2 separate regions of the Homo sapiens genome follow, and region 2 is linked to region 1. The links come from fine-mapping of genetic effects on gene expression. A gene starts in region 1. The other region holds a variant in brackets. All regions are shown on one strand. Distances are from middle to middle.

Region 1 (15,912 bases):
CCCACCTCGGGCTCCTAAAGTGCTGGGATTACAGGCGTGAGCCATCGTGCCCGGCCTGTACGCTTTAATTTTCATTTGATGTTTTATTTCCAATTATTAAATGTACTCCCCCACTCTGTTTTTCTCACTCAAGAGACTTCCTGTGTCTACAGTGGGTTTGCTGTAGTCTAGTACCACACATGTTCAGAGGATGCTCAGGAAATATTAGTAATACGTGTCACTTTGTTCAGAACGGCCAGTCTGCATTGGTTCTGCCTAGAGAGAAATTTCCTCTTTCTTCATGTACTTGGATCGCTAAGGTTTTCTGGTTGAATTTCTATGTTTTTAAAATAGTTTTATATAGACATAGTGACTTTTGAAATGGTCCTCCCTCCCTCCCTACCTCTCTCGCTTCCTCCTCCATCCTTCCATCCCTCCCTCCCTCCCTCCCTTCCTCTCTTCCTTTTCTTCCTTTCTTTTTCCTTTTCTCTTTCTCTTTCTTTTCTTTTCTTTTTTCTCTGTTTTGACAGGGCTCGTTCTGTCACCCAGGCTGGAGTGCAGTGGCGTGTTCACAGCTTGCTGCGGCTTTGACCTCCTGGGCTCAAGCAATCCTCCTGCCTTGGCCTCCAAAGTGTTAGAATTACACGGGTGAACTACCACACCTGGCCTGAAATAGTCCTTTCTAATTCAAACCTGGCTGTTTTGCCAGGGAGGACTTACTTGCTCTGAGACCATATTATTGGAAACTTAGAGTGTAATAGAGAACGTTTGATTCTTCACTTGTAGAAATAGTCAGAATTTCAAGGTTCAAAATTTCACAGACATAGACATAGGGCTGTAATGAGAAGGAAAATATGTATGTACCATCCTTTCTTCCAAAGTGTCCTTGGAGGAGAGCAAGCATAAGAATGGTGCTCAGTGAGGCCACGAGGCTGGGATACAACACCCTGAATCAAAGCACGCTGTCATAGCCTCCTAACAAAAGAGAATGTCAAGGTTTGAAACCGGAATTCATTATAATATGCAGTATTTTATGTACTTGTAAATAAAAGTAAGGGAGTATAGGAGGAGATGATAAGGGGAGGATTTGTTTTGAATCTGTCTCATCTTCTGCTTTGTTGAAGTGCTAATCAGATGATCTTTCTATCCTACCAATATATGAGAAAAAGTGTCTTAGAGTAAGAGTATTGGAGCTTGTTCTTGTTATCCTAAAGGCAAGCTTCCCTGTCTCATGTAAGAACTCCAGCTTTTTGTGTTCCCTTTAAATGTATATTTTGTGTTTTTTGTTCATTTTGTTGCTAAAAAAGGTAGTGCGGATTTTGTTAGTGAGGAGACAGCCTTTCAACCTTCCTATCTCCTTGGTACCAATTTAAGCCAAAAATTATTTTTTTCTATACAAGATATTAACCTTGCCATAACTAATTCATGCCATTGTGACCATGAGTTTAGCTATCTCTTTTCTATATAAGGAATCACTGCTGGGAATTGGTTTCCTTCCCAAGGGACCCTGTAATTTTGATTATTTTACTTCCATCCAGGATGTCACTATACCACAGGAGGCTGGCTGACTCAGGGATGGGAAGAAAAGGCATAGAAAAATAAAGTAGCTTATGTTTCTATGCCTAGGATGTTTGTTTCAAAAGTTCAGCTGGGGATCTGAGACAGGAAAGGTACAATAAATTTATGTTAAAAATTTCAGCTGGTCATCTGAGACAGGAGAGGTACAATACATTTATGTTAAATTTTTTTTTTGTTTCTGTCTTGCTGTTTACATTTATTTAAAATATTTTAAATGGAGATATACCATTATGCCTGCAGAAGGTCCTATTCCTGATACTTAAAAAGCCTAAATAAAGATATATAAATTTTAACCAGTTCCTAATACACTTACAGAATAAAAGTGTGTTGTCTACTGGAGTTTTTCTTCCCAGATCCATTTATGGAGAGGCCATAAAAAATCTGATGCGGGCATGGCAGAAATTTATATTAAAGCTGTGTAATAAGTCCATGGGTATTGGTTGTTGGTTTAAAATAACTCTACTTAAAATTGAATCTCAAGAATATATTTGAAAATATTTTAAAGTATTTTAGAGAAAAAAGCGACATTACTCACTTAGGAGATTGACTTCAAAGCAGGAATCATTTGAGATTTTGGATGAATAGTTATGAGAATTCCTTAGTGAACAGGACAGTGCTGGAGATGATCACTGAATGCAAATGAATACATTGTAATATAAATAGTATGTCATAATAATTGAAACATGGCTTTTTTAGATGGAAGATCATATTTCCTCTTTTAAAAGTTGATTTTATCCAATATATCCTGCTGGTTGTAATATTTAGTTATATATGGAGGTTCAAGCTTAAATACTTGAGCCCCATCTCACTTGCAAAAGCAAGTAAATTGCAGAGTTCACAAACCTGGAAACAACTCAGGACAACTCCAGTGTTTGGTATAATGTTGTTAGGTGAAATAATACTAGAATATTATGCAAGGGACCTGGTATTTCTTTCTTTTCTTTTCTTCTTTTGAGACATAGTCACTCTGTCACCCAGGCTGGAGTGCAGTGGCACAATCTAGGCTCACTGTAACCTCCGCTGCCCGGGTTCAAGGGATTCTTCTGCCTCAGCCTCCCGAGTAGCTGGGACTACAGGCATGTGCCACCACGCCCGGCTAATTTTTGTATTCTCAGTAGAGATGGGATTTCACCATGTTGGTCAGGCTGGTCTTGAACTCCTGACCTCATGATTCACCTGCCTCGGCCTCCCAAAGTGCTGGGATTACAGGCGTGAGCCACCGTGCCCAGCTGGGACCTGGTATTTCTAACAAATTCTGTTGTTTTCTCACACTGAATTCTGAGTTCTATTATGACAAATTCTCACTTTTTGTTTCTATGCTTTCTTGATTGCAAATAATTTTTTGAGATTTTGTTAATTTTAGTTACTTCTGGAATATTCCAACCCAAATTATAGATGTTTAGTCCTTTTTAAAATCAACTTATAATTTATTTGAATCCTAGGTCTTAGTTGCTTGATCAATGTTTAGGCAGCAGAATAATTGAGTAGCATTCCGCATAGCTAAGTAGCACTGTTTCGCAACCTGTGCCCTCTTGCTCTAGAAAATACTATTGCTTGACATATACCAGGAGTTTTAGGTTAGAGTATTTGGCAGTGTCTATATGGAATCAAAAACTTGCATTAAAATGGAGAAGAATATCTTTGTGAATCCTCTAGATGGCAGAACAATTACAACAAACATATCTTAGAAGGTGTCCAAGAAGCGTGTGGAGGAGAGAGTGTAGAAGAGATGGGGTGAGAAGGGGACCTGCGGGCTCTAAGCTTTCTGTCTCAACCCAACCAGGGCAGATCTGCTCTTATATGTCTTATATCTTGATATTTTATCTAAGATGGTGTTTGAAAGAAGGAACATGGCTAAAAACATGATAGGATGTCAAAACTCAAAATCTGTTGTTCTTTTTTTCCTTCAGGATAGAGTTTCGCCCTTGTTGCTCAGGCTGGAGCGTAATGGTGCAATCTTGGCTCACTGCAAGCTCCACCTCCTGGGTTCAAGCGATTCTCCGGCCCCAGCCTCCAAGTAGCGGGGATTACAGGCATGCACCACCACACCCGGCTAATTTTTGTATTTTTATTAGAAACGGGGTTTCAACATGTTGGCCAGGCTGGTCTCAAACCCCTGACCTCAGGTGATCCACCTGCCTCGGCCTCCCAAAGTGCTGGGATTACAGGCGTGAGCCACTGTGCCCGGCCCAAAGCTCAAAATCTTAAGTTGTGCACGCCAACATCAAATCACAGATTTCTGTGAGGACGTACACATGCATTATTCATGTACCCTGAGCATCTTCAGACTATAGCTGCCCCCACCCCAACACACATGTTGATGAATTCTAGAGTGATGCTGGCCTACTTCAACACTCTGCTACTTTAATTTCTATCATAGGGGTTGAGGCACAGCATAGTCTTTTAGCCTTTGTCCCTGCTTTTAAAGAAATCACCATTGTTGGTATATTGTATGTTGGCATAAGGAGAAGAGATGACTTGGGGAGATATAACATAGGTAACTTGCAAAGATTCATTCCTCACAGAGAGTGAAAGAGGGAGAGGGGGCAGGTAGAGCATCCAACAGAATAAATGTAAGATTTTAAGTGTGTCACTTTCTCCACTCATCTTTGAATAGAAAGATGACTGTAGTATCTCTTCAATTTCATTTGCAAAGTACTTATTCAAATTCCCCTGAAGTCACTTTTTAATAGCAAGACCAATTTAGATCCTTTTGGATTATCGATGAAATTCTAGATCTAGTAGTATAGCAAACGTGATTTCCATATGTCAAATAGAGCAAAAGCATAAGGGATAAATTTGCTATCCTGTATTTGCATACCTCATAATATCATATACTATCCCTAACAGATATTATCTCCTTATAGCTATTATTTCAGTATAAACTACTTTAAAAGACTCCTTCATTAGACTTTTCTGCAGTTACCTACTTGCCTATTATCAGTGAAATGCAGCTGAGGTATATTTTAGGATCACTATTCTTCTGGCTGTCTGAGATTGTACCTGAGAATGCATTAAGATACATTTTCACATTCATTTAACACATCTGCTGATTAACTAGTCCTGAGCTTACCTTGGGAATAGACAGATAAATTAGATGTGGTCTTTACTCTTAAGGCCCTCAACCATGAAAAATGCAATTTCGTATGTCAGACAACTATATAAATAGATTTTCTTATTTTTTTAACTTTTAGATTTTTTTATAGAGATGGAGTCTTGCTGTGTTGCCTAGGTGGGTCTCGAACTCCTGGCCTCAAGCGATCCTCCAGCTTTGGCCTCCCAGAGTGCTGGGATTACAGGTTGCGCTTGGCCATAAATAGGTTTTCAATGGAATCTAACAAGGTGTTATGAAAGAAGTATCCTCAAAGTGTTGGGGAAGTTCCTAGGCATGAGAAGCTCTTCTGTAGGTATTACCAGAAGTTACCCAGAAGTTACTGCATGTAGAGGACTGTCTTTGCAACACAAATGAAGGGAAGGTATACAGTTGATGAAATATTAAGAGTTGTACTATGTTATATACTGAGCCTGATAGATTTACACCAACAGCTTTCTAGGTTACTGTACCAAAAAATTCTATAAATAGCTAAGGATTTTTAGTTGATAACTGAACTGGAAATCATCTCTGGCTTTTGCTTCTTAAAGAACACATTATTCAGTGCTACATTTCTATAGTGATAATCAGGAAATAAGAAGGCCCACGTAGTCTGATGATGACAACAGTGTGACGTCAAACAATGTCTATAAAAGTGGTAATGTTTTCTGATTGGTCCAGATTCTTGAGTTATTTCACTAATAATTTCAATACAAAAAATGGAGAATGTCAGATCTTTAAACAACTGCTGAATAACCCATTGGTTGTAATGAACCAGTACATAGGACTGAATAAATGCTTTAAGAATTCTCTACACACCACTGGATCAAGCAATCTGTGTAACTGTAGATAATGAGACTTCAGCTTGACTTGTAATTATGCGTGGAGTAGTTAACTGTATTTTTTACACATCATCTTTGTATAGGCTCTGAGTCTAGGAGGGTCAGTCACAAATGACTGATACTCTGAATCAGGGTATTGCCACTAATCAAAGGACAGACTGCACATGTGTTCAGTGTGGAAGGATTAGTTGGTCTGCTTTGTCTTTTGGCTACTGTTGCAAACAAAGATTACAAAAAGAGGTCTGTATATGCCTATGTGTTTGTAAAAGGAGCTTTCATTTTTGTTTCCTTAATTGAACCCTAACTCCTGATTTATTTTTATTTATTTTTTACAAATATTTGTTGAAGACTTTCAGAGAACACAGAAGTTTTGCTAATTCAAGACAGTCCTTTGTTTTTTTGTTTTTGTTTTTGTTTTTGTTTTCTGTTGTTGTTTTTGTTTTTTAACAAATCCATGCTGTTTTAGAAAGGTGTTAACCAGCCCCCTCCCTGCCCTCATACTAGTCCATGTGTCAGATACTAATTAATCTATGTCATGGGATCACTTTATAATCTATATTTAGGGATCTCTTTCTCATTCAGAGACACCGTCTTTCTCATTTTGGGTGTTTTGGTAATTTTTCAATTTTCTGAGTAGCATCAGTATTTCTGCTTGAACCAAGGTGAAATTTTGCATCTATTTCTCAGTTCTCTAGGGGCCTCTTTCATGACTGTCTGCTTGCTTACTGGTATTTTCCTTACTCCCGTTTTATCATGGTCTGTGAATTTAACCAACATGATGTTTACTCCCGCTTTTGAATTATTAATGAGAAAACTGTGAGATGGTACTTTTATCTTTAATAGTTGATGCTGAAAAAGTGACAAATGCAATAAAAGCATCTTTCTCTAATTCAGTTCCTGTCATGCATCTCTTTAGTGTCTTGGTGATATGACTTGAAATAATAGTGCTTACATCTCTCTTTTAGCTAGTTCACACTGAAAGCATATAATCATCTGTTTGATATCAGAGCCACTTCCCAGTCACAGATTGTGATGTCACAAACCAAAGATTGTTCTCTCTCAGCAGGAAGAAGCTGGAGAGGAGATGATCTTCATGGTGAACTACATCCTTATTCAAATTTGGTCACTTCATAAGGAAAATTAACCATAATAAGGAACAAATATATTGGCTAGTTGAAATGCCCAGTTGAATTAAGCTTGAAACACGGTGCCATTATAATGGAATGAAAAAAATTCCTTATGAAAACTTAAAGTTATAATAATGAAGATATAAGTAAATATATATTTAATGCATTTAAAAATATTATGCAATGTCCCTTTAAGTTGAATGCTAACACAGAAAAATGAATTTTAGGTATGTTTCTAATTTTATATACAAAATTATGTTGCTTGGTATTTCAGACAAAAATTACTTTTTAAGATTGTTATGTCAACATACACGAAATGGATGTGTTCATTTTGACCTAGATGCCATTTTTATTTTATCATAGTTTAAATAAAAAGCTTATAGCTTTTGGATAATTTAAAATGACCAGAATTTAAGGATATAGCAATAGGTATTATTATAAGGATATGGCAGCCAAAATATTTGCTCCATTTCTATGAAAGGAACTAATGATACACAATCACATTACTTTTACAATATAATACTTTTATATAATATGTGTGAATGAAATACATTCTAAATTGCAGAAACAAGTAGGCAGGTCATTGACTACATCCCAAGACTGTTCAGAATCTCTTTAATTGTTAAATCTATCAATAACAGGGAAAAGTTGTTATAAATAAACCAAATCTTCAGGTACTAGCATAAAATCCCTCATCCATTTGTACCCATGAGATGTAAACTTGAAGCAGTTTTCAATTTTTTTTTCACCCTACATGAAGAAAATACAGATTATTCCAAATTGCTGTAGGGTATTTTTTTGAAAGCTGTTACCAAAACTTCAGTAATCACTTTTCTGAATGGGTTATTATAGAGCAAAGCCTTGATTTGGAAAGGAAAGAAAGTGAAAATTCACTGGGATTGATGCTGACAAGGACCAAATTGGGGTGGAGCAAGGTAGTATTCATTTGCCCAGCCATTGTCATTAGAAGGTGAGTTATAGAAACAAAGCCCCCAAATTAGTGGGATATGAGTCTCTGTTTACATTACAATGAGTAAATAAAATCCAGAACACTTAAGGAATATTGTTATCTGCCCCCTTTAATTCCATTTATTGGAAGCAAATTGAGCATAGTAGAAATTTCATACTTTTGTCCAAGTTAATTAAAAAATCTTTAATTATAATTTAAAATATTGATTAATATTCTTCATTTAAAATATCTACATATTTTTGAATCATGTCTGTTTACAAACTGTAATACCATAATAAGGAGGGAACAGATGAAAAGAACCCTTAAGGGTTCAGCTGTTTCTCAGTGTAGGTAAACAACAACAATACCACCCTTAACTTTTAGTTATGTCTGGTATGCATAAGAAGTATTTTGAGATTTCTAAATAAACATTTTTTTCTCTGAAACAAATTGTTGTATTAGATAATCACTACTTGTATTAAATTGCTGCTTTCCTTTGGTACTGGAAAATGACAGGTAAGTTTCTGTAATGACTTCAGATGTAAAAGACTTATGATATTTAAGGTTATTTATAGACTGTCTTGAAAAGCCTGAAGGGATCATATAATTTACTCCCTTAACTAAAATTTGAAAAAAGGAAAGAATTCAGTGAAATGGAAGAGAATTTCTAATTTGACTACTTTTAGACAAGTATTGAATACTTACTTCTGATAACTTTATGTATATTACCACAAGATCTCCGTAGTTAGGTGTGATATGCTCTTGTTTCCCTGTCTCCTCTCTTCTAAGATAATATAAATATTATTTGTTGTAGGACTTCTTTATGATAAGGTGCTTTGGACCTAAGTTTTCCAATGAAACTCATGAAAACCAATGTGGTTGGGATTTCTGCTAAATGATAACGTTTTGTTGTTTTTACATAAGATTGTCACTCTAGAAGTCTCATTATGCAGTGATTTCTAGGGAATTTCTTAAAGGCACTGTATCTTTTAAAATCCTTTGATGGCTTCACTAGTGCTTTGCATTTTACAGTTTGGACCACTGACCTGAGTCAAAGCTTTTGAGGTTTTAAGGTACCAGACATCTTTCATCTTTTTATCCTCTTGTTGAATCAGAAAAATGTCTTCATTTAGTCTGTTATAAAAATGTCTAGTATCTTTAGGATAAATTAGCCCTATCCTACAAGAGTGTTATACCTCGATTTAGTAGAGATTATTTTTCTTTAGTATGAATGAAATGACATCACAGCTTTTTTTTCTTAGTAACAATAGAAATCAGTCATTGAGCTTTTGTTCCTTTATATGAATAAAAATATTTAAAATGCTTATTAATTTTTCTTTGTTTTATCAAGTACTCTGGGAAACTAAGTTCATTTGAATATTGTTGGTAAACATTATCTGTGAATGGCTCTTATGCACCATTCAGGGCTCTCTTCATGCATTTTTTTCAAGCTATTAAATAAAACAAAATTGGGATAAAAATAAAGACAAAGATGAGACAAATTCAATGAAAAATGAATGGGAGTTTTGGATGCTTTATTATCTAGTTCTGAGTGACTTGTTTATGCAGCATAAGTAAAAACAAGCGTTTACCTCAGCTTAAATCTGCAAAAGCTTAAGGAAGGGTTGCAAGAAATTCAAATCCACTATCTCATTCACAGCACGAGCAGATTTAATTTCAGTAGACAAGATATAAATTAAGGTTATAAAATTAAATCTTACCTGGCAGTGGTTTGTTTGAAGCTCAGTAATTTGAACTCTGGCTGGAAATAGTAAGCTTCGAGACCCAAAATGCCTTCTCTACTTTCCTTTCATGTTTTATTTTGCCAGTGTTTTATTTCTTGCAGTGTCTTTATATCTGTATTCCTGATAATCCTGTAGCATTAGTTAGGATAGTATGCGGTAGATGAAGACTCCATTTGGATAGGATTATAGAACCAGAAGGGTGAGTTTTGCCTTTATCTGGTAACAGCAGTTGATCTGATCACAAACAATCTGAGTGTTGAGAACTTATTAAAGATTCATTGAATGCTTCAGCAATGAGAAATCCTGGTTGTTCCTATATGCATTTGACCCCCTGGAAAAGTTCTGCTTGTTCGTATTTCAGAATTACACACGCTTCCAAATCAAGCTGCTTTAAAAAACATTATCTGGACTAGAAGCATGGATGTTCTTGCACTCTTGCTTTCCTTTCTCCATACGAACTTTTCAGTCCATCAGCTTCCTTTCTGTAGAAGATGAAGGCATTTCTTCTGTCCTCCTCATGCTTTTGTAACCCATGCTTCTGGTACCCTGTTTTTTGAATAGTGAGGTAAAAATCCAGAAGGAAGTACGGCTTTATCATGTCTCTGGACGGTGAGCGTACTTGGCATGAATGAAGAGCTGATAGGAGCTATTCAAACCAGACAGCAAACTGATGGGATGACGCTGCCATACATAAAAAACTCATTAATTACTTCCCCTGCTGGACAGCAGTATATCCTGAAAGGAAGAAAGAAAGGAGCAGATGATGATATTCGTTTTGATAGGTGTTCTCTGTTTGAACAGCTTGTCATTGAGAAGAGAATCCAGGAAAAGCTGCAGCTTCAGAGTGTGATCAGGTAGAATGGGCAAGAGTTATTTGACAGACAGTTAAGTGACGTATTTTGGGAGGAAAAAGAGGGCTTAGCATGGAGGTAGCTGGAATAAGGTTCCAAAATGCTTTTGAAAATGTTCATTTTTTCCTGTTAGTCTTTTTGGCTAGAAGCTTTTTTTTTTTTTTTTTTTTTTTTTTAAGCTTTGCTAGGCATTATTCACAGACATGTTGCTGAGTTATTTTCTCATATGGTTTTCCCTAAAGATGGAAAATAATTTTTAAAAGTCTTTGAGATAGAAAGAGTATACTGTGAGTTTTAAATATTTGTAGCAGAGAAAAGGCTGCCTTTTTTTTTTTTCCTAAATGTATGCCTGTTTTTATACATCTTTTGGGCATATGCGTTTTGTTGCTTTGGAGTAAAGCATTATAAGTCCTCATTTGATACAAACTTTTAACAGGGTCTTCATTAAAGCTTTTCCTTAAGTTAGATGAAATCCATATTAGCTGTATAAAAGAATAGATTTTTAAATGTCAATTTCATAATTTTTGCACTTCAGTTTTTAAATTTAAAATTCAAATTTTTAAAACTGCACTTCAGTTTAAAATTTAAATTTTAAATTTAAACGTTTTTTCCCTGCCTGAGTTCTTTATGAGTGTATCTAGACAATATAATGTTTTTAAATTTTAAAAAATTATTATGGAACATTTCAAACTTACACAAAACTCTGAAAAATAATACAAAAATAATACATGAACCTCCAGAAACTCATTACCAAGATTCAACAATTGTCAGATTCAATTCTTTGCTAAAATATTTTAAAGCAAATCTCATTTCACCTATTTGTACTTTAGTATGTATATTTTTAAAGTATGGACACTTTTTCACATGACCCTGTGCCATTATCACACCTAACACATTGGCTATAATCCTCTGGAGTCATATAATATCCAGTTCATTTTAAATTCCTTGTGTCTCAGAAACTATGTCTTTATGTAGGTTTTTTCTGAGTGAGAATCCAGACAAAGTATACACTTTAATTGTTAGCCAATAGAATTTTAAACACTGACAGATGAACATGTATGAGAAAGAAGTGAATTTTAGTTTTATAGTGGTCTTTGACACACATTTGTAATAGGAATATTTATGCAAGAGAACATATCTTTAGAATATTTTCTTGAACTTTTCCCACTTAACATTGCATGATACTGAAAAGGATTGTAATTTCATATGGTAATGATTGGTCATTATATACTGGTCACTTCTATAATAAATACCCCAAGTTTTAAGCCACTGATTATTAAGCCATTTCAATGATTGAATGTGACTTAGAGTTCAGTGGAGATCCAAAATGAGAGAAGTAAAAATCTATCAAATGGGGCCATTGTGTTTATGAGGATCGATGACTATAATATTATATATGTTTTTCATTAATGTCAAGGTTTCTTCCCAATGGATTTTAATTTTTCTATGAAGTTTGAACTCCTAGCTCCTTTCTGGTAAAGCATAACATTTGGCTGTCCACTTAACTTTTCCAAGAATACAATAGCATGAGGTCCTGAAAATAACTTGTGTGCCACACCCTCACCTGTCGAAATTCATTCTCATTCAGGTTCTCTGTCTCTTCTCACTCTTATCTCATCTTTCAAATTGGCTGGATGAAAGAGAATGGGGGTGGTGAATATGGGGAGCCATTAAAGGGGTGTAGATGGAAATTATAATTTTCTGTTTCCATCTAAGCTCAAAGCCACTGCTGAGGACCGTGCTCCCATTTTTTATGGAGGGCAATAGAATACTTCTCTCCCAAGGTGCTCACTCTTGAGTATCTCTTGTCATACGTCATGTTATGGCATGAACATTTGGGAGCTTTGTGTTACACTTTATGTTCTCAAATTATACCTTGTCCTTTAAATCTTGCTGAATAAGGACTATATGTGCCAATCACTTTTTGAAAGCTTAGTAAATAGTTACTGATTATCACCATTTAATACAGATAAGCTGAATGGGAAAAGGTGAGCAAAAATGCTTCCATTCTCTTTCCAAGTTGTCTCTGAAATTTTTCTCAGTCATTTATAATACAATGTCAACATAGGAGAACACTTTGCAAATATGCAGGTTCTGCTGGAGAACTTTGTAGGGTGGGTGAAAAAGTGGTTATAGAGGGAACTGGAATAATAGATTATGAGTGTATTTTGGGTGCAAATATTTCATATCATTATCTCTCAGTACTTTAGCTATAAACTGAATTAATGGAAAAACATTGACTTAAGTACTGGCCTGTACAGTTCCAAATTATACTTCAGCCATTGTGGAAAGTAATTTTCTCCAAGACTTTGCTCTTGGTATTCCTGATGTTGTTCTTTTTTTTTAATAAAAAGCTGTATTTATTTTTACTTTCTACAGGATGAACTTTCTGCTTTGAAGCAAGGAGTTGTCTACATGAACTGTATTGTTCAGAGATCTAATAGGTTGAGTAGCTAGTTGGGTGGATGGCTTGTTTTTCCACCCTAAATATGAGGAGGAGGAGGAAAGTCTTAGGGATATGGACTTTTATGTTTTCTTTGATACATATAATAAAGCACATTTTTCTTTTGTTCAGATGTCTCAACTCTCATCTCCCTTTTTACAACTCTATGTATTCTCATATTTAAACTGAACTCTCCCATTGCCCACTGTAAAGTTGGCTAAACAACTTCAGAGGCATCACAGACTTTCAAATGAATTTATGTATAAGATAAATGATTTTTTCTTTTACAAGGTCCTTTTTTGCTAGAACATTTGGTCCATACCTAGAGTTATGCTCATAGCTGTTTACAAAATTATAAATACTTTTATAAAGAAAAAAAGTCTCTCCTTTATGCTCTCCAGTTTTTAGATGAGTAGGATTTGTGGTTAATGATTTCTTCCATGGCAACGGCTTCCTTTTAGGGCATTTCAATATGTATAATCTCAATTGAGTGTGATTATTTTTCAGTTAATAAATGAAGAGAAAAAGTTGCATTTTAAGAGAGTATTGTGGACTTATGGAAGCTGTTTCTAAAATAAATATGCTTTTAAATTCTTGTTGAAGAAATCAAACCTTTGTTGACTTACGTGAGTCATGCCATGCCATTTTTAGCACATTAATTGTAATAATAAACATTTATTGACTCCTTACTTGGTACAAGACCAGTGCACTTGGTTCTTTGGATTTATAATGCATAATTTTTAACAGCTCTGAGGCAGACTGTTATCATTCATCTTCTATAAAGAAGGAAACTGAGGTACACCAAGGTTAAGTAACTTGTTCAAGTTTACCCTGTTATTAAGATGTTGAACTGTGGTATGAACCCAGCCTAGGTGGTTTTAAAGTCCAGTAAGATTGCCTACTGAGAATAACCATCATTCAACTTAAGCGTGAGACTCCCAGTATAATGTTGAAAGAGTGGCGTCTCTCCAGCATGACTAACATTCTACAAAAATGAAATCTGCAGTTTCTTGGAGATCTTAGATAACCTGGAGAGTTGACTGTCTTTAATATATAGGGAATGTGTTCTTCTTGTTTCTATGTCTTGAATTTATAAAGGGTGATTTATTTTTCTTTCCAAAATTGTATTATGGCCTCTCAAATAGCAATGTGTTTTAAAATACTATTCATTTATGTTCTATTAAATTTTTTTTTAAAACTAAGTAGTGGTATGAGGGGGGATATGAACTAGAGTGGTTGTACTTTGCAATACAGTTGATTATTAGGAAACAGTTGCTGTCTTCATATGTATTACATTCGGGTAAAACGATTGCATTTTTTTTCTTTTGGCATCAGTTTGTTGGAGAAAAAAAGATTGCATTTTTATCTTCTAATTTAGACACTTTAAATGAATCTTTCATTTTTAAACTTCTTTAGTTTATTCCTCTACCATAGCACCCACTTTTTTCACTCATCTCAGGCCTTAACCTGTGACCTATTATTTGGCTCTTTCCTAATTTGTCATCCTTAATATTTTGACCTTATACTGAACTGCAGACAACCACTAGAGGTCTCCAGACCACACTTTAGAAAGCTCTGATTTTACAACCATACCCTAGTAAGTGGAACAGATACGTTCGGGGGGAGATTGGGTACTAATATTCCTCATTAAGTATTTGTGAAATGCTTCCTATATTCCAGGTTCTAGAACTATGCTATGTCCTGGCGGTAGACTTTTTTTTTTTTTAAGTAAGGACTTAGACCCTAAGAACCCTGTAGGCTAGTGGGGACACTAACATTTGAACGTGTGGTCACAAGATGTCACGTTAGGCACACCCACATCACATCCTTTTAGATCCTAATGACTGGAGTCTTTTAGATTTCTAAGTTTGTGAATGCCCCACTAATACTCTCTGTAGCGAGATCATTCCTGCTTTCTTGATGAGCCCTGATACTGCATCAATCTGGCAAGGAGCCATTCTCTGGGGGCAAATAGGATTATTTGGATGGGCTTTGGGGTTTTTTTGTTTGTTCGTTTTCTTTTTTTTTTTTTTTTTGAGACAGAGTCTCGCTCTGTCGCCCAGGCTGGAATGCAGTGGTGCGATCTCGGCTCACTGCAACCTCTGCCTCCCAGGTTCAAGCAATTCTCCTGCTTCAGCCTCCTGAGTAGCTGGGATTATAGGCGCCCACCATCATGCCTGTCTAATTTTTGTACTTTTAGTAGAGATGGGGTTTCACCATGTTAGCCAGACTGGTCTCAAACTCCTGACCTCAAGTGATCCGCCTGCCTTGGCCTCCCAAAGTGCTAGGATTATAGGCGTGAGCCACCGCGCCCGGCTGGGTTCTGGTGTTTTACTTTCTGATACCCTTCTCAGCAGCTCTGGCATCTGATCTTTAGGGAAGCACTTCATACAAAAGCCAGCCACTGCCTGTCTCAGTGAACAAGGCAGACCCCACAGAGATTTTAGACCTTCCATTTCCATTTTGCTTTATATCAGATAAATTTTAAAGAAAGGATCTATCTTCCTCTTGGATCTCTTGTCTGTTAGGGCTGTTTAAATAGACAGGTATCTCATAGAAACAGTCTTAGGGACATATTCTGATTAACCCATGCAAAGCACCTAGCACAGTGCCTGGCACAGAGAGGGCAGATGCTTAGTAGATGTCAAGAGTTGTCATAATTATTATGGAATTTAATTTAATTTTACTGCTGGAAGGGACTGTAGAGATAATTTAGTCCTGCCATCCATTTTACACAATAAATTTTAGTGCTCTTTTTCCTTCTCATATAGGCATCTAACTGTTAGGAGTTGTTCTCTTCAGTTATCCCATGTTAGGAAGGCCACAATTTTGATTTAGTCATTATCCGCTTAATGATTATACTTCTGTATGAGAATTTTTTTTTTTTTTTTTTTTTTTTTTTTTTTTTTTTTTGAGAACGAGTTTCGCTGTGTCGCCCAGGCTGGAGTGCAGTGGCGCGATCTCGGCTCACTGCAAGCTCCGCCTCCTGGGTTCACACCATTCTCCTGCCTCAGCCTCCCAAGTAGCTGTGACTACATGTATGTGCCTTCATGCCTGGCTACATACACATTTTAGTGGGAACATGAATAAATGAAAATGATCTTGATCATAATTGTATGCTATGCAGAAGATAAGGGGGGAATTATAGACAGACAGATATTATGCAGGGAAATTTAGTGATTTGTTATGTTTTTAAAGGATTTGAGTCTGATGTGGCATGTTAAAAAATTTAGGAATTAGCAAGAGGTTATGATGATGATCCAGGGAAAATATGATGATTCCTTAGACTAAGGTAATAATAGATGGA
Region 2 (15,912 bases), 28 kb before region 1:
GTATTTTTAGTAGAGATGGGGTTTCACCATGTTAGCCAGGATGGTCTCGATCTCCTCACCTTGTGATCTGCCCTCCTCGGCCTCCCAAAGTGTTGGGATTACAGGTGTGAGCCACCGTGCCTGGCCAAGGCTATTTTCTGTAGAATGTTCCTGGTATTTGTTATTTACATAGCAGATTCTATTATATCTCTTTAATCTGCCAGCATCTTTTGGTTCTGAGAAACTTGCAGGAATGCTCTAGTTTTCAGGCAGTCTTTGCAGTCCCTAGATCATAATGTAGAACGCCATCTTTTTGTTTTGACAGGGAGGCTTATGATGATATTTGTGGGCTGAACGTGATCTTGAAAGGCCAATTAGTCTATTTCATGAAAGTGTATGAAAGTTGATTCAGGTGAGGATTATTGACTAGTGTTAAATTTGTTAAGTGAATGGTTGGGGAACTAGAAATTTACAGTGGATCAAATAACACTGCACAAACAATTTCCTCGATGAAAGAGGGAAGACATATCTGTACAGTGGGTGAGTGGATCAGACTTCATTATCCAAACCCTGTGGTCCATCTTAGTTATTATATATAGTGCTTATGTTTGTTCAGCCATCTTATGTGCTGTAACAAAGGGTTCAAAGCAGCATCTGTATTTTAGCCAAAAATATTTAGCTTGACTCCATTGAGCACTTACATTTTTAAGATTAGTTTATAGATAATATTGGAGATAAAAAAAATCTGTAAATAATACCATGAGGAAGCAAACAGACCTAGCCTGGCCTTGTCAATAAGTCAGGGTCGTAAAAATAGGGACTGTGCTAGATTCAAAGAGACTTAAGGAATAAACAATTAGATACAATTCCTGGTCCTGGATTGGATACTGTCTTGGAAAAACCAGCTGTATAGGACATTTTTTGGGTTACGGAAATTTGGAACTAGCCTGGATGTTATATGAAATGAAATTTATTAAGTGGAGAGATGAAGAATATTTTTTAAAAATCTAGTGACCAAAAAGAAGTATATATAAATATATACATAGAAAAAGATCTGGAAGTATGTGTACTGAGGGGTTAGTGGTACTCTGTGGGTGAGGGAATTTGGGGTTTTTATATATTTTAGTTTTGCTTGTCTTTTCCTCCTAATTTTCTCCAGTGCATATGTCCTGCTTCTGTGTTAATAAAAGCTCATTATTTTTTTTAAGTCCACACTAACCCATCCTATACAGATGAGTTGTTTTAATAATTTTACTCATTTTTTTCTTGATAAGGATTTTGTAATGTTTGGGACACATCTTTGAACCATGTCTTTAGATTCTACATGCATCTCTGTTTTAAAAATTTAATATTCTATTATGAAAAAATTTAAATACATGCAAAAGTAGATAGAATAATAATACAGTGATTTTCCATGTACCCATCATCCAGCTTCAGCAATTACCAATTAAGTATAGTATATTTCATGTCTATCCACCATTCCTCTCCACCCACTATTTTGGAGCAAACCTCACATGTCCTATCTTTTCATCCATAAAGAGTTCAGTGTTTATATCTAAAAGTTAACAACACTTTAAAAAATTGCAATACCAGTATTATAACAAACAAACAATAAATTAGTGGTATTTCCTTAATATAATCAAATATCCAGTCATTATTTACTTTTTCCCAGTTGTCTCATAGTCATTATTTTCTCTAGATTGTTCAAATCAGTACAAATAAGTTCCCTACATTACAACTGATTATGCCTTAAGCTCTTTTGGTTTATAGGTTTCTCCATCCTCTCCCACCATTTTTTTCTCTTTCAGTTTATTTATTGAAGAAACTGGGTTCCTTATCTTCTAGAATTGTTCACATTGTGCATCTTTCTGCATGCTCTCTTAACCTTTCAGTGCCCAATACTGGAAACTGTTCTCTAGCATGCATCTGAGCAGGGTTCCTATTTAAAAATCTATACAACATAGTCAGTTGTAATACAGGGAACTTTTTTATACCCAAGCTTTTCTATTGAATTAAGATTTTGTGCTAGCTTTTTTCTAGGAGCATTGTGTATGTGTGTGTGTCCACATGTATACAACTAGTTGCTCACACAGACGCTACCTGAACAATCACACAGGCAAGTTGTAGAAATTGAGCCTGGAGAGTGCTAAGAGAGTACCTGAGAGGGCACTCACAGAAGGCTATCAAGGGCAAATGAAGTGGCCTTGACTTTGTCAGTAATTTGTCTCCTCTCAATATTTAAAAATAGATTTGAGTCAATATATAACATCAGAATGTTCATTAATCACCTATCTGGATGGTTCTGGTCATAACATGTATTTATTTCAAACTCAAGTTGTTAATAAGAAGTACTAAAACAAATGTAGATGTGGAATGGTTTTCATTATTCTAGAGTATGGAATCTTATGTATAAATGTAGTACCATGTAAATTCACACTCCATTTCACAAGTCATTGTCCCTCACTATATGTAATAGTGTTTTCCTAGTAATATATGTTTAAGTTAAATAGTTTTAAATAATGTCATACTTTCATTGCTCTAAAAAATTAAATAAAGCTTTTAAACATGTTTATGGAATGTGTTTGTAAAATCCATATCCATAAATTGAAAGGGAGAGTTGATTTCCATCCTGAAGTCCTTTGAGTTTAAGATGCTTACAGCCTTGATTATTTCAACTGGATGAAGCAACTATTGAAATAGGATACATAGGGATAAATTTTAGAGATCAGCTACACAAATGTTTAGGCAGCTGCTTGCTAGATTTCCTTTTCAATGATTACTGGAAAGTTCACCCTAAAAGAACACTCTGGTATAGTGTGATTCTCTTAAAATAATATTTAATATCTTCAGACAGCTTGGTCTATTGCTTTTTATTGTTATGTCCATGTACTTTTTTGTTTTACTGGGAAGTCTACTAAGGTCAGGATTTCCACTGCTTACTTATTGATTTGTCTCTAATGATTGCAGGTTGAAGATGACAGCGATGCAGAGACCTATGGAGAAGAGAATGATGAACAGGGAAATTATTCTAAAAGAAAGATTGTCTCTAACTGGGATCGATATCAAGATATTGAAAAAGAGGTCAATAATGAAAGTGGAGAGTCACAGAGGGGAACAGATTTCAGTGTCCTCCTTAGCTCTGCAGGTATGAATTCCAGTTGCATGCATACTGTTTAGTGCTCTGAAAGTTGCACAGACATTTTATATATGTTTTTAAATTCTACTTTTATAACTAGCAATTTATCCTTTGTTCTTTGGATTTTTAATTCAAGTAAAGGACAGTGTTTCTAATGGCTTGTAAGGGAAAAAAATGAGTTTAAGTGGAAGTAAGGGTTTCCATGTACCGATGTAGAATGACTAAAGTCTTTGCGATAGATAAAAGGCTTTCTATAAGTGGAAAAAGCTGAGCCATGCTGCTGTAAATTTGATAGTCTGAGAAACATAAATGTTTTCTTTGATATTGGAGGAAACATTCCTTATATTTGTAGGAAGCATTATAAAGTTTCTAGAATATATGTTCTCTTTTTTTTCCTTTTTTTAAGTAGCCAGGTATATACATAGTAGTGGATATGCACATATTGGAGCTATATGCACTTGAACACCAAGTTTTTGTTTTTGCTTTTGGATAGTCTTCTCTGTCAATAAAGTGAAAAACCCAGCCTTTCCGTGATCAGCTGTAATCTAAGATTGATTGCACCTTGAGTGATGTGATGCTGGAGAGCAGTAACAGGGAAGAATGGAGGAGTGCTGGGTGTACAGATGGCTGCAGGGTCCCTACTGAGGTGTGGCGTAAGAGTTTAAAGAATAACTGGAAGATAGATTAGTGATTTCCAGGTGTTGGGGATGGGAGGGTGGGAGGCGGATGTGCTTATAAAGGGGCAGCGTGACAGATCCCTGGGATGCTGACACTGATTAGTATCTTGACTGCGGTGGCAGATACACGAACCTACGCAGGTGATAAAATTGTGTAGAACTTAATATACACACGTGTGCACAAATGAGTATGAATAAATTTGAATAAGATTGGCAGATTGTATCAGTTTCAGTGTCAGTCTTCTGGTTGTGATATTATATTATGGTTTTGCAAAATGTTATCATTGGGGTAAACTGGGCAATGTGTACAAGAGATCTTTCTGTATTATTTCTTTATAACTGTGTGTGAATCTGCAATTACGTCGCTAAATAATTATTGCCAGGTTAAAAAGATATAAAGGATGCAGATGTGAGAAGCAGGGAAGTAAAACAAAAATAATACTTTGGGACTGCTTTGAATTTTTTCTTCCTCATGACTTTGATGTTGCTGTTTAGTTCTACCTTTCTTCTTTATCTGCCTGTATTTTTGAATGCTGGCACCAGACTAAGAACAATAAAGTGATGCATTCTCTTCTAACTTAATAGAATGTGCTTTTCCGAGCAGGAAAGAAGTAGATCATAAAATTGTGAGTCAGGAGCACAGGATTCGTCATTACCGTAGATGATTCAAATAGCATAACTTCTTTAGGTTTGTGGATTGCTCTCAACTCATTGACTGTTCAAGAACTGGTAACACTAAATAATTTTTCCTGTAAAATGAGTGCTTCCCTCTTGGTACCTATATTTTGGCCAATTATGGGTTTATAAGCACTTTTCTTCAAGGTGGGAGAAGGGGAATGAAGGTAAAATATGAGCTGGTTAGTTTTAATTCTCAACAGCTGTTCTGCCAGAAGATCTAGGGGGAGAAAATTGAAGTAATACAATGAAATTAACTTGTGGACTAAAGTAGATTTAATTCAATCAGTTGTGTAGTCAGTTACTAGTATCTGTCAAAAAAAAGATACTTCATAAATGTTGGAAGGCAGTTAAAAATTCTAGTCCAGGCTGGGCATGGTGGCTCACGCCTGTAATCCCAGCACTTTGGGAGGCCGAGGCAGGTAGATTGCCTGAGGTCAGGAGTTCGAGACCATCCTGGCCAACATAGTGAAACCCCGTTTCTACTAAAAACACAAAAAATTAGCTGGGCGTGGTGGCGGGCACCTGTAATCCCAGCTACTAGGGAGGCTGAGGCAGGAGAATTGCTTCAGCCTGGGAGGTGGGGGTTGTAGTGAGCTGAGATCGTACCACTGCACTCCAGCCTGGGCAACAAGAGCAAAACTCCGTCTCAAAAAAAAAAAAAAAAAATTCTAGTCCAACCTAGCAGGCCTGTCCTCTGGTTTATGATTTTGGTTATTTATTTTAGCATTTTATATATAATTAAAAACCTGGCATGGATTGAGTCTCTCATGTATTTTTCTTGTAGTCTCTTTGCTTACTGATTTCTTCTGAAGTGGCTTGTTTATCTGTGATTGGTTTTGGTTTTTTTGGTAATTGCAGCTGTCTTGTCTTTTGATATGTGCTTACATTTCTTTCCCACTCTGTTGCTGATTTATCAGTTTCTTCTCAGGATAGCATAAGACTGAGAAGAGCTTCCATGCTTTCTTCATACTCAGTGTTTTGGTGCTATATTGGTTTACTTTCGAGAGGTCAACTTCATTCTCTGATAATAAAAATTCTAGAGTATGCAGTGTTTTCTAGGTAAGCTGACCATACTCCTTGAAACAATTCTGCTTTCTAGTGTACTATCCTTGTTTGTATAAATAAATAGACAACTGAGAAAAAATATTGTTGGTTCCTTAGGTGTGCAATCATAAACTTTTCTAGATATTGCCAAATTGCTTTCCACGGTAAAGATGAGAGAGTTCCTGGTGTTCGTCATCTCTGCAAATAGCTAGTACTGTTGGACTTTTAAATTGTGACCAGTTGATTGAATGGTATCTAGTGTAGTTAATTCAACAGATATTTAAGTACCCATTGTTCCAGCTATTGGCTTAGAGGCTGGACATAGAGTGGTGAACAGAACAGATATAGACACCTGTCTCACAGAGTTGACTTTCTAGAGGGTAGAGACAAACAAGAAGAGTATATAAAATGTTAAATGCTATAATTGCTTAGAATAGAAATAAAATGAGGAAGGGCTGTTAACCAGTTTTAGAAGTAGCCAGGGGTCTTACTGAGAATATAACATTTGAGCAAAGATCTGAGGAGGGTGAGGGAGCAAGTGAGGATATCTATGGGAAAAGTGTCCCAGGCAAAGGGAATAGCAAGCTCAAAGGCTTTGAGATAGGAGGATAGGGAATCGCAAGGAAGGCCAGTGTGGCAGAAGCAACGTGAGCGAATATGCGATGGGGTCAGAAAGGCATTATCCAGCCAGATCGCGTAGTATTGTAGACCATTGTAAAGATGTTTTCTTTTATTCTGAGTGAGATGAAAAACCAGCGGAGGGTTTGAAGAGAAGAGTGATATAACACTCCTGTGTTAACAGGATCACTCTGCTGTGTTGGAAGGAACTGAAGACTGGCAAGAGGGGAGCGGGTAGACTAGTTAGGAAGCCACTGCTACTACTAGTAGCAGGTAGACTAGTTAGGAAGCCACTAATAATAATCCAGGTAAGCAGCGGTGGTGGTTGCTGGGTCCAGAGGAGAGCAGTGGAGGTGGTGAAAAGTGGTTGGGTTAGATCTACGTAGAGAGAAGAGCAGAGAGCACTTGCAAATGCTGGGTATGAGAGAAAAAGATACGTAAGGATGACACTAGGTTTTGGGTCTGAACAGTGAGAAGAAGGGAGTTGCCCTTAACTGAGGTGTGTAAGTTATAGGAGGTACCAGTGTTGCATGTATTAAAAGTGAGATGTCACTTTGATACCTGTTGCAGTCAGAATTCCTTAATAAATGGCTGGCACACTCAATATAATTGAACACTTTGACAAAGGAATCATTTACAAAGGTATGTGTAGAGTCTAATGAAAGCACTGAGGTAGTGCTGTGTTGAGAGGGCAAGTAGCGGCAGAGATGTTACCACCCTAGTTACTGGAAATTTGAAGGGAGTCATAGAGAGTTGGCCTTGGGAGAATGAATCACCTTCGGTGAGGGGACTCAGCCAGTGAAGATGACCCCACTCTGAGAGAGTCAGAGGAATAAACATTCTCTTCCTCCCTCTGCCAAGGCTTCCATAAGTCTAACCTACTGGAAGCCAGAAGACAAGGGAAGTTGTAATCCATATTGGTCAACCTTCTAGGGTAGAACAGGTTGGAGAAGGGTGGAGGATAAATCTGCATTGGCACATGGAAGAGACCCAGCACAACATCTAATAGGCGACATGGAGCAGGCTGCTGGATAGAGGAATGTGGGGTTCAGGATCCAGGCCTGGGTTGGCAATAATACATTTGGGTGATGCCAGCCTATAGATGATATTTAAAGTCGTGAGAATGTATGAGATGACAGGGGGAGTTATTACCTAGAGAAGTACTGATTCCCAGGCACCACAGTGTCTAGAGTTTAGGGGAAAGAGAAGAGACCAGCAAAGGAGACTGAGCATGAGTGGTAGAAGAAAGAACCAGAGAGTGTAGTGTCTTTAAGTGTTTTGAAGCAGGAGGAGAGATCTGTATCAAATGCAGTTGATGACAATGAAGAATTGACTGTTAAATTTAACAGGAAGGTTATTGGTGATCTTCACAAGTGCAGTTTTGTTGGAGTGGTGGCATAAATTTTTTCTTGAATTTAAAAAGAATGTGGGAAGAGATGTTTGAGACAGCAGGTATAAATGACTTAATTTTAAGGAGTTTTGTTATAAAGGAAAGGAGAATAATGGGCTGGTGGGAGAAGTGAGTCAAGACTTTTTAATTTTTTCTTTTTTTGGCATTTCTTTTGTAGTGACAGGGTCTTCTTATGTTGCTTAGGCTGGTCTCGAATTCCTGGGCTCAAACAATCCTGCCTTGGCTTCCCAAAGTCCTGGGATTACTGATGTCAGCCACTATGCTTGGCCAGTTAAGACATTTTTTTAAAGGTGGGAGAAATAACTACATGTTTACTTGTTGATAGATCCAGAAAAGGGGACAAAAATCATAAGGGGAGGGGTGAGAATTCCTGGATCTGTGTTCTTTAGTAGATATGAGCTTGATAGGATCTATTGTGCAGGTGGAGGGATGGCCCATTGCTGGGGCTTGGGCAGTTTTCCAACTGTAATTGGAGGAAAGGCAGAATATATGGGCATAGATATGGGTAGATGGGTAGATGTCATGGAGGCTTGAGGAAGTGGTCTAAGAAAACCATGGATAAGTGTTGTGGAGGAGGTACTGGAAGTGGAAGGAGAGAGCAGAAGGTAAGAAATAGTTGTCAAGGAAGTGGGAAAGTATAGTTTCCTATTTTCCAAGTAGGAAAATGTGGTATAGATGTTGGGTGACAATAGGGGCCCACATGAAGTTGGTATTCATAAATTTAAGGTGAGAACAGGTATACTTTTCCCTGACTCATATTGTGCTGTATGGGTGCAGGCCCAGAAAGACCGGACGGAAGGGTAGGACTTAATCATGATTACAGTTTAGCAGAGCAAATGCAATGAAATGAGAGAGGGAAAAGGAGATGATTAGAATGATTGAAATGAATTTAAGTGGGATAAGGAAATAAGTGAAGATATGAGAGAAGATGAGGGGCAGTAAAAAGATATTGGGATCACAGGACTACAGATTTTTTCAGGGCAGAAGGATTATTGACCTTCTTGAGAAAGTGTGAGTTGGAGAGGTGGGAAGTGGTGGCTGTAGATTAGAATGTTTGACGTTGAGATTTGGTGGGGCAGGGGGTTGCGGATGACGGTAATGATATAGTCTTATATAAAAATACGGGTGTGCCTGGCTGTGAGTTGGTGTGGAGACCTCGTCTTTGGAGTTTTTAGTTTACATTTCCTTAGTTATTACTGAGGTTGAACATCTTTGTATTTGTGGTGCTTGCTTTCTTTGTGAACTGCTGCTCACATTCTTTGACCATTTGGCTATTTTGTTTCTTATTGATTTGTGGGTTAAAAAAAAAGTAGTCTTGATACTTATCTTTTGATATTTGTGTTTGCAGGTATCTCCTGATATGAGATTCACTTCTATAGTGTGTCTTTCAGTGCATTGTTTTAAATTTTAGTTGAATTTATCAATTTTCTATCCTACTGTTTATGCTGTTTTATGCCTTTAGAAATCCATCTTTCTCCCAAGGTTAAAGATGTTCTCCTATATTTTCTAGAAGTTCTAATTTTGCTTTTTTTCCTGAAGAATGTTACATTTTATTGTTTGCTACATTCTTGTGCCATGGTTTTCAGCCCCATCGGGTAATTTAAGGTCTTCTCTACGCTGTTTATTCTAGTTAGCCATTCATCTAATCTTTTTTCAAGCTTTTTAGCTTCCTTGCGATGGGTTCGAACAGCCTCCTTTAGCTGGGAGAAGTTTGTTATTACCAGCCTTCCGAAGCCTACTTCTGTCAGCTCATCAAAGTCATTCTCCATCCAGCTTTGTTCTCTTGCTAGCGAGGAGCTGCGTTCCTTTGGAGGACAAGAGGCGCTCTGGTTTTTAGAATTTTCAGCTTTTCTGCTCTGGTTTCTCCCCATCTTTGTGGTTTTATCTACCTTTGGTCTTTGATGCTGGTGACCTACAGATGGGGTTTTGGTGTGGATGTCCTTTTTGTTGATGTTGATGCTATTCCTTTCTGTTTGTTAGTTTTCCTTCTAACAGTCAGGTCCCTCAGCTGCAGGTCTGTTGGAGTTTGTGGGAGGTCCACTCCAGGCCCTGTTTGCCTGGGTATCACCAGCGGAGGCTGCAGAACAGCAAATATTGCAGGACAGCAAATGTTGCTGCCTGATCCTTCCTCTGGAAGCTTCGTCCCAGAGGGGCACCCGCCTGTATGAGGTGTCAGTCGGCCCCTACTGGGAGTTGTCTCCCAGTTAGGCTACATGGGGTTCAGGGACCCACTTGAGGAGGCAGTCTGTCGGTTCTCAGAACTCAAACACTGTGCTGGGAGAACCACACCTCTCTTCAGAGCTGTCAGACAGGGACGTTTAAGTCTGCAGAAGTTTCTGCTGC[C/T]GTTTGTCCAGCTATGCCCTGCCCCCAGGGGTGGGGTCTACAGAGGCAGCAGGCCTTGCTAAGCTGCAGTGGGCTCTGTCCACTTCAAGCTTCCCCAGCCACAATGTTTACCTACTCGAGTCTCAGCAATGGCAGACGCCCCTCCCCCTGCCAGGCTGCTGCCTCACAGGTCTATCTCAGACTGCTGCGCTAGCAGTGAGCAAGGCTGTGTGGGTGTGGGACCCACCTAGCCATGTGTGGGATATACTCCTGGTGTGCCATTTGCTAAGACTGTTGGAAAAGCGCAGTATTTGGGCGGAAGTGTCCAGATTTTCCAGGTACAGTCTGTCATGGCTTCCCTTGGCTAGGAAAGGGAAATCCCCTGACCCCTTGCGCTTCCAGGGTGAGGCAGCGCCCCGCCCCGCTTCAGCTCGCCCTCCGTGGCCTGCACCCACTGTCCAACCAGTCCGAATGAGATGAACCAGGTACCTCAGTTGGAAATGCAGAAATCACTGTCTTCTGCATTGATCACGCTGGGAGCTGCAGCAGCATTTTAAAAACCCAAATGATATAATGTCCCACTAATGGCTTATGACCTGCAGTTTGGTGTGGTCTGAAGCATCTGATTCATTTAGTCATTTCAGTAACTTCGAAAAATGTCTGAGCAGAAACTCTTTAGTTTAATTAGGTCCCACCTGTCAATTTTTGGTTTTGTTGCAATTGCTTTTGAGGACTTAAGGACTCAAAAGTTTTCCCTTGGTATCCAAGAGGGATGGTTTCAGGACGCCTGTGGATACCAAAATCTAGGAATGCTAAGTCTCTGATATAAAATGGCAAAATATTTGCATATAACCTATGCAAAAAGTATAGATACCTTCCTTTATATACTTTAAATCATCTTTAAATCACTTATAATATCTAATGCAATGTAAGTGCTATGTAAAGTTATACTGTATTATTTTTTATTTGTATTTTTATTGTTGTATTGTTATTTTAAAATAATTTTCTTTATTCATTTATTTTTAGAGAGACAGGGTTTTCCTCTGTCACCCAGGCTGGAGTGCAGTGGCATGATCATAGCTCACTGCAGCCTTGACCTCCTGGGCTCAAGCAATCCTCCTGCCCCAGCCTCCTGAGTAGGTGGGACTATAGAGGTGTGCCACCCACACCTGGCTGATTTCTTCATTTTTTTGTAGAGACAGGACCTTGCTGTGTTGCCCAGGCTGGTCTTGAATTCCTGGTCTCAAGTGATCCTCTCTCTTTGGCCTCCCAAAGTGCTGAGATTACAGGTGTGAGCCACTGTGCCTGGCCAGTATTATTATTTTTTATTTTTAAAAAATATTTTTGATCTATGGTTGGTTAAATCTACCAATGTGGATGGTTGCCTGTATGTTATTTTTTTCTTCCCAAATTAGCTGGACCTCTGGTCCAATTCTCAAATGTTATTTGGAAGATAGACCTTTATCTAAGAGTACACCTTTATCTAAGAGTAGAGAATATAGAACTTCAAGAGTAGAGAATATAGCTTAACATATATTCTCTAAGTAGATTTCCATTGTAACAGTGAATTTTTGAAGACTTGTAATTAAAAAGTGAATTTCTATTTCACACACACTGTATGTATATGTCGATGCTCACTTTGGAAGATAGTTTGCCATTTTCTGATAAAACTGAAGATCTAGCACTTTCACCCTTAAAGGATACTCTAGAGCAGAGGTCCCCAACCTTTTTGGCACCAGGGACCGGTTTTGTGGAAGACAATTTTTCCACAGACCAGGGTGAGGATGACGGTTTCAGGATGATTCAAGCGTGTTACATTTATTATGTGCTTTATTTCTATTATTATTACATTGTGATATGTAGTGAAATAATTATACAACTCACCATAATGTAGACTCAATGGGAGTCCTAAGCTTGTTTTCTTGCAACTGGATGGTCCCATCTGGGAATGATGGGAGACTGACAGATCATCAGGCCTTAGATTCTCATAAGGAGCGTGCAACCTGGATCCCTTGCATGTGCAGTTCACAATAGGGTTTGGCTCCTATGAGAATCGAATGCTGCTGCTGATCTGACAGGAGGTGGCGCTCAGGCACTAATGCAAGCAGTAGGGAGTGGCTGTAAATAGAGAAGAATCTGCTCACTTGCCCACCACTCACCTCCTGCTATGCAGCCCGGTTCCTAACAAGCCACAGACCGGTACTGATCCATGGTCTGGGGGTGGGGGACCCCCTGTTCTAGAGAAACTCCAGCACGTGTGTGCCCAAATGTTCACAGCTGTATGTTCAGAAGAGCCTCAGATGGAAGCAACGCAAATATTCATTAATAGTGGAATGAATACTTAAATAAGTGGATGAATCTTTTCAACATAGCATGAAGTAAAAGAAACATGCCCACAGAATTCGTTAGTATGATTCTATTATATAAAGTTCAAACACAGGAAAAAAAAACCCTATTTTTTAAGGATGTATATTTAAATACTAAAGTGACAATCAAGGAAATGATTATTCCAGATATCATGATTGCGGTCACCTCTAGTGGGGAGATGAGGTGTAATGATTGAGGAGGGCCCGGTAGCAGGTGTGGTGTTGGCAGTATTCTATTTCCTGGCCTGGATGATTGTTATTTATGTTGGTTTAATAATTATTCTATAAGCTCATATGTATTATCAATTTTTTATTTTACAGATCTCTTTATAAAAGGAATAAAACTCTTTAAAAGTGGATTTCTAATGGTAAAATTTCTGTTACCACCATAGAGGTGGGAACCATTTTTGGAGAGGCAGCCCTTTCCAGCCTGCCTCCTTCCACTTGTGCCACACGGGCATTGCCTGCTCTGTTTGTTTCTGACCACTGACAGTGACACTCTCATTTTTATTAGTGGTGGATATGGGAAAGGGGACGGTTGTTCAAAGTCATACTTTTTCTGGTAAGATTGTGAGTCTTTAGGTGTCTTTGTAGAACTCTTTCTGTTAGTCTCTGAAAGAGATAATCATGCCTTTGGCTTTTCTTTTTGAACAGTATTCTTGGCAGTTCTAAGTTACGTTTCAAGAGCTTTGAAAATGGCACCCCACTCTTACCTTCAAACGTAAAAAGTAAGATCTATGAGAAATTTCTTCTGCCCTTCATTTTTTTTCCCCAAAAGTCAAATCATTGAATTCATGCAATATGCATTGTCTGTTCCTTTCAAGATGTCACAGATAGCCAGAGTTAGAAAAATGTTTAACAGTGTGAGCAGAATGCACTGGATCAATATTGAAGAAAACGTGGGGAAAATATTATGTGCAAGTCTGTAAACACTATTTTTAGAGATACAAATAAAAACGAAATAACCAGACTGCAGTTTGGTCAGTATAGTTGTTGTCTGTGCATATTTTTGCTTAAAACTATTATATATTTTCTTCAATTTAATTTTATGAAAAGCTATTTTGGGTAGGAAATTTTAATTGTAATGACATTGGAATTTCTTCCCTCCTCTGTTCCTTGTGCCAACAATTAGACTGAAGGGAAAAGAAAGGATATTACTCTAGCAGCCTGTACTTTTAAATTAAACCTCGAACCTTTTCTTTCCATGAGGCAACAAGACAGTTTTATTTGTCCTCATTGATTCAGCTCATTTTTTTCCCTCTTCTTGTATGGTATATAGTTTGTGCCAATATAGTCTCATATTACAAAGGCAATATAGTAGAAGAAGATTCTTCCCTTTGATATTTAAAACATCTGAAATAACACAAACAGAACTATAAATTAAAAAATTTGTTCTGGCTGACAGGGCTAAAAAAATTTTCAATTGGATAACCAAAAAAATAAAAACAAGGAAAACTCCGATAACAAAAAAACTTTTCCTTGTAGCTGAATATTGAATATTGGGCCTAATTTGATTTTCTTTTTTCTTTTTTTTTGAGACGGAGTCCTGATCTGTCGCGCAGGCTGGAGTGCAGTGGCGCAATCTCGGCTCACTGCAAGCTCCGCCCCCCGGGCTGACGCCATTCTCCTCCCTCAGCCTCCCGAGTAGCTGGGACTACAGGTGCCCGCCACCACGCCCAGCTAACTGTTTTGTATTTTTTTAGTAGAGACGGGGTTTCACCTTGTTAGCCAGGATGGTCTCAAATCTTCTGACTTCGTGATCCCCCTGCCTTGGCCTCCCAGAGTGCTGGGATTACAGGCGTGAACCATCGCGCCCGGCCTGATTTTCTTTTTAAAAACCTTCAAAAGATAAGAGCAGAATTTGTGTGCTAAACTGCTAGTCTCCAGCGCCATTTTGTGTTTTCTGTTGTTTTGAAGCAATTCTTTGTTTTTGCTGGTCCAGCTGCATCATTTTCATCATCCTGAACTATCATTTTCCTGCCCTGAAGTTGTGCATTTCCTTTAGCAGATCCAGCCTAGGCAGCTTTATTTCCCTTTCTTTTTCCTTTAAATCTATGACCTTTTGATTCTCATTTGTTTAGAGATTCTTGGTGATTTTGCATGAGTTTTTTTCAGTGTTTCTTTTTCTACCTTTCTGTCTAGTAATTTCCACATCTCTTCCTTGTTTCTTAGTCATAGGTTACAATTGCTGGCTGCTTCTGCTTTATTTAGTGTTTCTTTAGCTTTTTTCTTACATAGAATTAATCTCTCTTTTGCTCTACTGATAAAGTGTATCCATTTTATTTCCCCATGATTTGAGAAAAGGATATGTGGGTGCTTTCTACAGGTCACATTATCTAAGTCATCCCAAAATTTCAGCAAACATTCAATCTAGACATTTCATTTGAGCATCCTCAGCACTTCTGTTTTTTTTTTTTTAAAGTTTATTTTTGTGGGTCCGTAGTAGATATATATATTTACTGGGTATATGAGATATTTTGGTACAGGTATGCCATGCATAATAATCACATCATGGAAAATTGGGTATCCATCCTCTCAAGCATTTATCTTTTGCAGCACTTCCATTTTTCTTCTTGCTCTTGCTTAGCTCTGAATTTAGTTTATACTTTGTTTTGCTTCATTCTTGTTTTGCAAAATAATCCTCCTTGAAAAGTGTTAGAAGGTCTGTATTTTTATACCAGGGTTCAGGGCCAGGGTCTCTATAAACTTTTTATTGGATTTAATACCGTCAAACACTGCACGTGTTGATTGCTTAAATGCTTTGTGTAATGTTTTTCTCATTTGAATATTTAGTGCTTGTCCTTTATCTTCTAATCTTTAAAAGATTAGACATAAAATAATTATGTCATCAGGAGTTGCATCCATTGGGAAGCCTTTCATATGAATGGATCTGGTTTTACATCATTTTTTTCTACTCATCAGTTGCCAGAGGGACATTTTGTACTAATCAGAGGGAGGTTTGTTTGGAAAAATCTTCTGATTTTAGTTTTATCTGTATTTTCATTAGTTCTGCCTTTGATTTGTTCAGTGCTTCTATTATATTAAAATCTGTTGTTAGGTAATTTAACCTGTTGAATTTTGTTATTTCCAGAGGTATCCAGCTTTCATCCAATTTAGTCTGTTCCTTTTAAAAATTCGTCTTACGGCAAATTAAAGTCATCAAAATGATACTTGATTTGATGGTGGTAGGTTTCGGTCCCCAGAGCAGCCATTGTTTTCACTATCACCATTTTTGGCTGCTGTGGTTATCTTTCCGGTCCCAGGCCCCCAGAGCCGAGCCATAGGATCGCTAGCAGAGACTGTACTTTCAAGTTCACATGAAGGACTGTTTATTTTTAAATGTTTATTATTAGATAATTTAAGCTAGTTATACTGGACATGGCTTAATGAGAGAACGTTAGTGAATCTTTTCTGAGTTTAAGTTGTATTCCAGATACTCTTCTGGTTATCAAATGACTTATATTCCAGTTACTCTTCAGTTAGACAACTGGCTGCATCATCAAATCATCTGGGTACTACATTCTTTTCTTTTCTTTTTTTTTTCAGACAGGGTCTCACTCTGTCGCCCATGCTGGAGGGCAGTGGCGTGATCTCGGCTCACTGCAGCCTCTGCCTCCCAGGTTCTAGCGATTCTCCTGCCTTAGCCTCCTGAGTAGCTGGGACTATAGGCACGCACCTCAA

Alleles and levels. Alleles are on the strand shown, and positions count from the first base shown. SD is a standard deviation of normalised expression in the study named.
As copies of T replace C in region 2, the expression in tibial nerve of the gene that starts at base 9,941 in region 1 goes up (large effect, 1.1 SD a copy in GTEx).

Evidence for each region.
Region 2: its variant is fine-mapped to the expression of CHRM5 in tibial nerve (GTEx, PIP above 0.99).

Annotation. Positions count from the first base shown.
Region 1 is chr15:33,962,526-33,978,437 of GRCh38, reverse strand. CHRM5 (cholinergic receptor muscarinic 5) reads right to left here and starts at 9,941. Exons shown (of 3, transcript NM_012125.4): 1 at 9,288-9,941. All of the region lies in intron 2 of AVEN (apoptosis and caspase activation inhibitor), which reads left to right.
Region 2 is chr15:33,990,244-34,006,155 of GRCh38, reverse strand. AVEN (apoptosis and caspase activation inhibitor) reads left to right here. Exons shown (of 6, transcript NM_020371.3): 2 at 2,947-3,124. All of the region lies in intron 1 of CHRM5 (cholinergic receptor muscarinic 5), which reads right to left. Among named protein-coding and RNA genes, the nearest start is that of CHRM5, 30 kb to the right of the region's middle. The variant C/T (reference allele first, on the strand shown) is at 9,887.